Linked DNA regions of Homo sapiens: region 1 is linked to region 2. The links come from fine-mapping of genetic effects on gene expression. Tissue or cell type: whole blood. Region 2 holds a variant in brackets; the other region holds the start of a gene. All regions are shown on one strand. Distances are from middle to middle.

Region 1 (5,112 bases), 110 kb after region 2:
CAAACGATTTTCGTGTCTCAGCCTCCCAAGTAGCTGCGATTACAGGCATGCATCACCACACCAAGCTAATTTTTGTATTTTTTAGTAGAGATGGGTTTTTTTTTTTGAGACGGAGTCTTGCTCTGTCACCCAGGCTGGAGTGCAGTGGCACAATCTCAGCTCACTGCAAGCTCCGCCTCCCGGATTCACACCATTTTCCTGCCTCAGCCTCCCGAGTAGCTGGGACTACAGGCGCCCGCCACCACGCCCAGCTAATTTATTATTATTTTTTTTTGTATTTTTAGTAGGGACGGGGTTTCACCATGTTAGCCAGGACGGTTTCGATCTCCTGACCTCGTGATCCGCCCGCCTGGGCCTCACAAAGTGCTGGGATTATAGGCGTGAGCCACCGCGCCGGGCCAGAGATGGAGTTTCACCATTTTGGCCACGTTGGTCTCAAACTCCTGGCCTCAAGTGATCCGTCTGCCTCAGCCTTCCAAAGTGCTGGGATTACAGGCGTGAGCCACTGCTCCCGGCCCCTGTGGGCTTTCTTGACTGTTGTTCTCTCTGCCTAGAACACATCTTACCCAGCCAACTGTTTAATCTTTCCCGACTGCCTAAGATGGATTCAGTACCCAGCTGTAACACCCTACTTAGCCCTATCCCAGTGCTATCCCCTATCAGCAAGTGGTACAATTGCTTGAATGTTTGTCTGACTTCCTTATTGAGTTGTAAGATCTCTAAAGATAGGAATTTTGTTATAGTGTTCACTATTCCATCCTCAAGGGCTTAACAGATTCTAAAATGTAGTAACAGTTCTAAAAATGTATAGACAAAATCTTTGATCCACCATCCAATTCCCCCTATATATAATCCCATTACCAGAACTCAGGAGTCCACTCAACAACCCAGGAAACAAACACTTACTCTGATGGCATCTCTAGTAGTTTATCCAAAAGACAGGAAACTTTCTCCTAAAAACAGAAAAATCCCCACCTATAAAATGATGGATGCTCTTGGCACAAAACATTCCGAATCCTACCCTTTCAAAGTCTTCAGATAGATTTGGAAAAAAATAACCAATTGGCTGGCTTCTCAACCTACACTGCATAAAACAAACTGTCAAACATCTTTCAGAGGACTTCAAGATATCCTCACTCTCTTATTTAGAACCTCATATTCTTCAGACAGGAAGAGAAGCCAACTAACAGTATAACACCTGTGGCTTGAGACGGCGTGCCCCAAGTTTTCCCTAGGTCTAAAGTGAACAAGACCTTCTGTAACACTTTTTCAGAAGCATAAATGAAGAATACACAAGAGGATAAACACGGAGGTCATGGTACGTTTGCAACGAAGGTGTGTACACGTTTTTAAAAAGCATTTCTGATCTATACCATAGGAAAAAACCTGTCATACTCACTTCCGAGTCTTCTGCACTTTCATAATCCGAGAGAACAGCTGAAATAAAACAGAAATATGTGGAAAAAAAGAAACCCAGAAACATTTTTTGGCTGCTTATTACAGGTCAGACTAAGAGTCTCATTTAATTCTGACATCAACCTACAACGTGGATAAAATTATAGTCCCCACTTACAAAAGGAGAAACAGGCTCAGAGGGTAACTTGCTGAAGACTATACTGCTAAAGCCTATGCTCTTAACCACTATGTTACAAAAAGGCACTCTGTGGCCCTAAATCCGTGACAGTGTGTGAGAATGTCGATGTTGGAAATAGATGACCTGAGTTTATGTTAAAAAAAACTCTTGTCCTAATGGGGTAAAAGATGCTACTCACCATCACCTTCAATGCCATCTTCACTCTCCTGAAAGAAAGCAGAAGACATGGGTTAGTTCTGTGATTTCCAGAGGTGGGGAGCCCAATAAAGAAATGTGGGTGAAAAGCTGAAGATTCAGCACAAAATGGTTGGAGAGGGAGACAGAGATAGGTAAATCTTTATCAAGTAGTAGCCAAGGCAGGTCTGGTCTCCTTCCCTCCAGCCCCGACTTCTGAATAAAACATCCGCTTTCCATCTCCAGCGGCTCTACCATCCTCCCAGAAACCCCCAATCCTTCTTCTTCCCTTGGAACTCCGGATGCAAACTCGCATTGGGATAACTCCCCTTTTCTCTCAAAAACAAAAAAAAGTCCCAGTATCTACTATCAACTCACAGACTACCTAGCATCACCTACACCCCGCCCCCGGCCGGCTCGCCGCCCGGTCCCCACCCCGCCCCGCCTGCGCGCACTCACACACTCCGACTCCTCAGCACTCTTGGCGCCCCCGCTCTCCACCCGCCGCAGATGAAGGGCCCCGGTTCGGCCTCCGCGCTGTGAAGGCAGAGAGCCGCTGCCGCCGCCTCCGGCGCTACCGCTGCAGCTCCCGCCTCCCCGCAACGGGGAGCCGCCGCTGTCGGAGCCCGAAGCACCAGATTCCTCGTCCTCGGTGTCTTGCGAAGCGCGCTGCCGCCGCCGGTCCGCCATCTTACGGAGAACGGCCACCACCGGCGAGGTACTTACGCACCGCGCCCGTCGCAGAGGCTGCTGGGAGGCTGGATAGCTAGTCCCGGCGTGCTACGCGTGCGGCGCTCGGCCATCCCGCTGTGTGTGTGTGTGTGTGTGTGTGTGTGTGTGTGTGTGTGTGTGTGTGTGTGTGTGTTGGGGTGTGTGTGTGTGTGTTGGGGTGTGTGTGTGTGTGTGTGTGTGTGTGTGTGTTGGGGGAGGGGCGGGGCACTGGGCGGGGCCTAGGCCTGCGGCACGTTTGCGGCCGACCCGGATTACGTCTATCGGTGATGTAAGGGGGCGTGGCGCGGCTCCTGACTTCCCTTGGGCAGGCCTAGGGCGAGGGGAATTGAGACTTCAGCAGCCTCCCGGGTTCCTGGCCCGGCCATCTTGGGCTTCCCGAGTGGAAGGAGTCAACCTGTCACAGCTTCACTGCAACACTAGGGCTGTTTCATGGTTTTCTGTTTCCATTTCTCACTTCTACCTACGTTTGAAGCAGGTCAATTTACTGCATTCCTTTGCTTGGTAAAATCACGAATCAAGGTAAATCTTAAAAGCTGTAGTGCTGCGTCAGATTTGCTGCACCAGCCTTGTTTAAGATAACGGGCGAAGGAGAAACCAGTTGTCTGCAGTGAAGCCAGAGGACTTCTTGTTGCAGCGTTTTCTCTGTGTTCTCATTTCCTCTTCACGTTTCTTCCCACCCCAGCCATCACCTGTCCCAAAGTGCAGGCTGGTATGATGCCAGTATTACCGGTTTTGTTTTGGCTTTTTCGAGGCAGGGTCTCACTCTGTTGCCCAGGCTGGAGTGCAGTAGCGCGGCTCACTGCAGCCTTGACCTCCCAGGCACAGGTGACCTCCTTGCCTTAGCTTCCTTAGTAGTTGGGACAACGGGCACACACTACCACACCCGGCTAATTTTTCTGTTTTTTGTAGAGATGGGGTCTCGCTCTTGCCCAGGCTTGTCTCCTGGCTGGGATCAAGCGATCCTTTCGTCTCAGCCTCCCAAAGTGCTGGGACTACAGGCATGAGCTACTGCCCTTGTCAGGATTTTAGAACCTATTTAAAAATAAATGGTCAGTAGAAACAGATGTTGATTCAAAATCCTGACATTATTTCCTTCTTAAGGTTTATGGAAATTATTTCATTTTGGCAAGGCATTGGCCACCATTGAAAAGAATCAGTGTGTTTTCTTTGGACCATTATAAGGATATACAAAGTGCATGAGCTAAGTTTTTAGTGCACCTACAGGAGTGCACGTTAATAATGTATGTTATCAAACAAAGGCCACCATGGCATAGAATTCTTCCCTGAGTAAAATATTTTTTTTTTTTTTGAGAGGGAGTCTCACTCTGTCTGTCGCCCAGGCTGGGGTGCAGTGGGGTGATCTCGGCCCACTGAAAGCTCCGTCTCCCGGGTTCACGCCATTCTCCTGCCTCAGCCTCCCGAGTAGCTGGGACTACAGGTGTCTGCCGCCAGGCCCGACTAACTTTTTATGTTTTTAGTAGAGATGAGGTTTCACCGTGTTAGCCAGGATGGTCTCGATCTCCTGACCTCGTGATCCGCCGTTCTTGGCCTCCCAAAGTGCTGGGATTACAGGCGTGAGCCACCGCGCCCGGCCTTTCCTGAGTAAAATTTTTATAAATGACATGGTTAAGGATCCTGATGTTTATCAAATTTATAGATAACATGAAACTGGAAGTAATTATGAATGCCTTCAGAGATGAAAGGAAAATTCAAGGCCGGGCGCGGTGGCTCACGCCTGTAATCCTAGCACTTTGGGAGGCCGAGGCGGGCAGATCACGAGGTCAGGAGATCAAGACCATCCTGGCTAACACGGTGAAACCCCGTCTCTACTAAAAATAAAAAAAAATAGACGGGCGTGGTGGCAGGCGCCTGTAGTCCCAGCTATTCGGGAGGCTGAGGCAGAATGGCGTGAACCCGGTAGGCGGAGCTTGCAGTGAGCCGAGATCGCGCCACTGCACTCCAGCCTGGGAGACAAAGAGATTCTGTTTCAAAAAAAAGAAAAAAAGAAAATTCAAACAATCTCAGCTAATTAGACAAGTGGCCAAACGTGACAACTTATAAGTCCAGCTCCAAAAGCCAACTGCCTGAGTTCAAAATGGAGGATAATATGATTTAATAAGTGTTAAAGAAAAAGAACCTGGAGGATCTTATCGATCACAGACTAAATTGGTGCAAATAAGGCTGCCAAGTTTAGTGTCTAAATAAGGAAAGTGATAGTCTGCCACTTTGTCCTTCAGTTGTTTAGTCTGGGTCCAGTTTTTTTTTTTTTTTTTGAGGGGGACGGAGTCTCGCTCTGTCGCCCAGGCTGGAGTGGAGTGGTGCGATCTGGGCTCACTGCAACCTCCGCCTTTCAGGTTCAAGCGATTCTCCTGCCTCAGCCTCCTGTGTAGCTGGGATTACAGGCGCGCACCACCACGCCCAGCTAATTTTTGTATTTTTAGTAGAGACGGGGTTTCACCATGTTGGTCAGGCTGCTCTTGAACTCCTGACCTCGTGATCCACCCGCCTTGGCCTCCCAAAGTGCTGGGATTACAGGCCTGAGCCACCGCGCCGGGCCTGGAGCCCACAGCAATCTTTAACTAGGGACTATGAAGAAAGGAGGGATTGGTCTT
Region 2 (5,199 bases):
TCGTACACTTAAAATTATCTAAGAGGTATCCTAGTTACCACTACAATCTGGGGCCTTTATTCAAATGGCATTCTGCTGCTCTAAAACTCAGGTTTCAATTGCAAGTTATTTTAAAAAGACACGAAAATCAAGAAAAATTCTAAATCTTAATGCTATCTTCTATTTTCATGCCTCAGGTAACAGTACTTTCCTTTGATCTCAGTTTTGACTACAAAGTAAATTACAGTTTTTGTATCAAAGCACTGAACAAAATCCCAAAAGGGAAAAAAACTGACCTTAAAAAAACAGGCCACCTCCCTCACTCAGCAAAATCTTAAGGTCCCAGTCCTTCCTTACAAGAATCAGTCATATGAATAGGAATCTGAGATATCAAAAAGAAAATCATCTTTATTTCTTCAATATATGTTTAATTACTTAATATCCTAATAAACCATTTCTCAATACAAAGAAACAGAGATAGGTAAAACAAATTTCAGGATCCTCTCTGAAAAAACCACAACAGCTTTGACTACTCTATCTCCCAGATAATCTAAGGAGAAGACAGTTGTGTCTTCAAAAGAAAAAGATTCCAGACACTCCTCCCTAATGGAATTCTTCTGATCCCATAGTTCAAATCAAATGAAATCTCTCTAACAGCATCAGAGATGAAACATAAATGTTTGGTAGAAAGAGAGTCAGGCAGGGCATTATGGCTCAAGCCTGCAATCCCAGCACTTTGAGAGACTGAGGCAGAAGGATCGAATGTGCTTAGAGACCAGCCTGGGTAACAAAGTGAGACCTTGTCTCTATTTAATAAGAAATATTTTTTAGGCCAGGCACAGTGGCTGACGCCTATAATCCCAGCACTTTGGGAGGCCGAGGCGGACGGATCTCTTGAAGTCAGGAGTTTGAGACCAGCCTGGCCAACATGGTGGAACCCCCATCTCTACTAAAATTATAAAAAAAATTAGCCAGGCACGGTGGCGGGTGCTTATAATCCCAGCTATTTGGGAGGCTGAAGTGCGAGAATCACTTGAACCTGGGAGGCAGAAGTTGCAGTGAGCCAAGATTGTGCAACAGCACTCCAGCCTGGGCAACAGAGAGTCTCAAAAAAAAAAAAAAAAAAAAAAAAAAAGAAATAACTTTTAAATTTTTATTAAAAAAAAAAACTGATGTATCAGCTTTTCACAACCTTTCAATACAACAACCAACCCCAAGAACATTCACATCAAACAAAAAGTTCAAAATGACCAAGTCCACTTTGTATATTTTTCAACCAGGTTTCAGACAAAAATAGAATTAACAGCAAGAAACCAAAGACAATTGCAACAAATGAAAATAAGTAAAAATTGAATGGGTAGGTTTTGTTAAAACTGGATTCTAAATTCGACAGCAATTTCACCCATTCTGATAAGTATTTAACAATTACTAACTTAACCCTATGGTGGCCCATTAGTATCAATTTAAACATTATCCTGAGGCTGGGTGCACTGGCTCAGCCTATAATCCCAGCATTTGAGAGGCCAAGGGGGGTGGACTGCTTGAGGTCAGGAGTTTGAGACCAGCCTGGTCAAGTTGGTGAAACCCCATCTCTACTAAAAATACAAAAATTAGCCAGGCATGGTGGCAAACGCCTGTAACTCCAGCTACTCGGGAGGCTGAGGCACGAGAATCACTTGAACCCAGGAGGTGGAGGCTGCAGTGAGCTGAGATTGCACCACTGCACTCCAGCCTGGGTGAAGGAGTAAGACTCTGTCTCAAAAAAAGTAAAAAAAAAAAAGGCCAGGCGCGTTGGCTCACGCCCGTAATCCCAGCACTTTGGGAGGCCGAGGCAGGTGGATCACTTGAGGTCAGGAGTTCGAGACTAGCCTGGCCAACATGGTGAAACCCCATCCCTACTAAAAATACAAAAATTAGCCAGGCTTGGTGGCACGCACCTGTAATCCTAGCTACCTTGGGAGGCTGAAGCAGGAGAATCGCTTGAACCCGGGAGCTGGAGGTTGCAGTGAGCTGAGATTGTGCCACTGCACTCTAGCCTGGGCAACAGAGCAAGATCCTGTCTCAAAAAAAAAAAAAAAAAAAAAAAAAAAACCCTGAAATAAGAATTAAATTTTCGAGGAACATTTCATACACCTATGTCCATTTTAACAAGCGAGTTGTTTTTGTGTTTTTGTTTGTTTGTTTTGAGACGGAGTATCGCACTGTCACCCAGGTTGGAGTGCAATGGCACGATCTCGGCTCACTGCAACCTCCTCCACCTCCCAGGTTCATGCAATTCTCCTGCCTCAGCCTTCCAAGTAGCTGGGATTATAGGCGCACACCACCACACCCGGCTAATTTCTTGTATTTTTAGTAGAGACGGGGTTTCACTATGTTGGCCAGACTGGACTCGAACTACTGATGTCGTGATCCGCCCACCTCGGCCTCCCAAAGTCTGGGATTACAGGCATGAGTCGCCACGCCCGGCCAACAAATGAGTTCTTAAGCACAGACAGTACCATATCTTTCTAGGGTTCTCTCTCATTATTCTACAGCATACCGTAGCTGCTCAGCAGTCACTTGCTGAATTGAACAAAAGTAAATATAAGAGTAGCACAGGCCTAGCCAGGCGCAGTGGCTCACACCTGTAATCCCAGCACTTTGGGAGGCTAAGGCAGGCGGATCATTTGAGGTCAGGAGTTCAAGACCAACCTGGCCAACATA[G/C]TGAAACCATCTCTACTAAAAATACAAAAATTGGTTGGGCGTGGTGTCAGGTGCCTGTTATCCTGGCTACTTGGGAGGCTTGAGGCAGGAGAATCGTTGAACCCAGGAGGTGGAGGTTGCAGTGAGCCGAGACTGTGCCATTGCACTCCAGCCTAGGCAACAAGAATGAAAATCAGTCTCAAAAAAAAAAAAAAAAAAATGAGCAGCACAGGCAGGGCACGGTGGCTCACGCCTGTAATCCCAGCACTTTGGGAGGCCGAGGCAGACAGATCACTTAAGGTCTGGAGTTCGAGACCAGCCTGGCCAACGTGGTGAAACCCCATCTCTACTAAAACACAAAAATTAGCTGGGTGTGGTGGTGCGCGCCTGTAATCCCAGCTACTCTGGAGGCTGAGGCAGGAGAATCGCTTGAACCCGGGAGGAAGGTGTTGCAGTGAGCCGAGATCACGCCACTGCACTCCAGCCTGGGCAACAGTGAGACTCAGGAAAAAAAAAAAAAAAAGAGTAGCATTGTCTAAAAGAGCAAGCAAGTCTGGGTGGAGGAAAATGCAGCAAGGAATGGATCAACATGCCAGAAACAGAAAACAGACAGAAGAATGGAGATATCTATGAAAAGAGGAAAGAAAGAAACACAAGGCTATACGTGTTGTTCAATGCTCCAAAAAATTTTAATATGCTGAATGCACTCATGCATCCATCATCCAATTAAGTATCCACAACTTAACCACTTAATAAATATTGAAGCACCCACTGAGTGCCAAAGTATTTTTCTAGAACAATGGCTCTCAACCAGGAGGGATTTTGTTCCCCAGAGTCATTGACAATGTCATTGACATATTTGTCACAACTAGGGTAGGGAGTGCTGCTGGCATCTAGTGAATAGAAAACAAGGATGCTGCTCAACATCCTCCAACGCATAAGACAGCCGCCCACAACAAAGAATTATCTGGTCAGGACAGGTGCAGTGGCTCACACCTGTAATCCCAACACTTTGGGAGGCCGAGGCGGGTAGATCACTTGAGGTCAGGAGTTCAAGACCAACCTGGCCAACATGGTGAAACCCTGTCTCTACTAAAAATATAAAAGTCAGCCAAGCATGGTGGCGGGCGCCTGTAATCCCAGCTACTCAGGAGGCTGAGGCAGGAGAATCACTTGAACCCGGGAGGTGGAGGTTGCAGTAAGCTGAGATCGTGCCACTGCGCTCCAGCCTGGGCGACAGAACGGGACTCCATCTCAAAAAAAAAAAAAAGAATTATCTGGTCTACATTGTCAACAATGCTGAGGTTGCTAAGCCCTGTTCTAGAAGATGAGCAAGACAAGCGTCTACTGTCTTGGAGCTTACATTCTAGTGTAAGAAGGAAGAAATAAAATCTCAGTATAACAGTTACTGATAAAAGGAGTAAAAAAAACAGAGAATCATAAAGGTAGAGTATAGGAATAGACTGGAATGTTCTTTTGTTTTACTTATTTATTTTTTAGAGATAGATTGTCCAGACTATGTTGCCTAAGCTGGTCTTGAACGTCTGGGCTTAAGCAATCCTCCAGCCTCAGCCTCCCCAGTAGCTGGGACTACAGCTGCCCAGGTTAGAGTCTTCCTTTGGATAGGGTTGCAGGCTTCAGGATCTAGGAGAATTTAACCACGACAACAACAAAATAGTAATAATAATGATAAAATAATACAGTCACAGGGAAAGGGCCATTGGGGGAGAGTATCTGGCTCTCCCAAGAAGTCTCTCCATGAGCAGAGCATGCCATGTAAACATCTGGGGAAAGAGCATTCCGAAAAGAAATAACAGCAAGTGAAAAAATTCTAACATGGGAATGTAGTTGGTGTGTTAGAGAACTAGTAAAAAGACCAGGATAGCTAGAACAGAGTGAGAAGAGATGAAATCTGAGGCTTTATATATAGGCCATCCTCCAAATCCAAAAGTAGTCCCCTTCTCTGTCCAATACACCAACACTGTAAAACCAAAGAAACCTAAATGAACCGACAGCTTCACACTCAAACCAGAAGTTCGATCGGTTATCTCATTAATCCCACAGACTATACTTGATCTCCTGGCTTAATCTCATCCAGAGACTAAGTACTAACTGAAGGCCTTCCAGGGTTAAAAGTCACCTGTTGGTAATCTGCCCACCTGTTCAGCTGTCCTTCAGCTTTGCTCCTGAAAAGCAATCCAGCATGGGAGGTAGGAGCTCATTACTACAATGGCATAATGGCATCCAGTCCCTAGGCCAAAGAACCCCAAAATGAGAAAAGAGCCAGGAGCTGCCTAAGAGTAGTCACATGCCACTCCAGGAGCCAACAACGGCAGGAACCAAACAGGTTCCTATAATCACACAGGGAATAATGTCAAGAGGAATGAAAAACTTGCCTCCATGTGTTCTAGGACAGACTATAACAGAGGGTTTCCACTAAAGTGTTTCTGGTTTCTCTAAAGTACAAGGAAACAGACTAGAATAACATTCATGTTACACACATTTTACCACTACCACTCCAAAAAAAGGCTTTTTCTA

Evidence for each region. PIP is the estimated chance that this variant, and not a neighbour inherited with it, causes the effect.
Region 1: it holds the start of CASC3, and the variant in region 2 is fine-mapped to the expression of CASC3 in whole blood (TOPMed, PIP above 0.99).

Annotation. Positions count from the first base shown.
Region 1 is chr17:40,137,895-40,143,006 of GRCh38, reverse strand. It overlaps CASC3 (CASC3 exon junction complex subunit), which reads right to left and starts at 2,470. Exons shown (of 14, transcript NM_007359.5): 1 at 2,228-2,470; 2 at 1,773-1,800; 3 at 1,400-1,437. The coding sequence starts at 2,458. RefSeq lists enhancers at 2,154-2,453, 1,919-2,859.
Region 2 is chr17:40,244,079-40,249,277 of GRCh38, reverse strand. All of the region lies in intron 1 of WIPF2 (WAS/WASL interacting protein family member 2), which reads right to left. Among named protein-coding and RNA genes, the nearest start is that of WIPF2, 27 kb to the right of the region's middle. The variant G/C (reference allele first, on the strand shown) is at 2,683.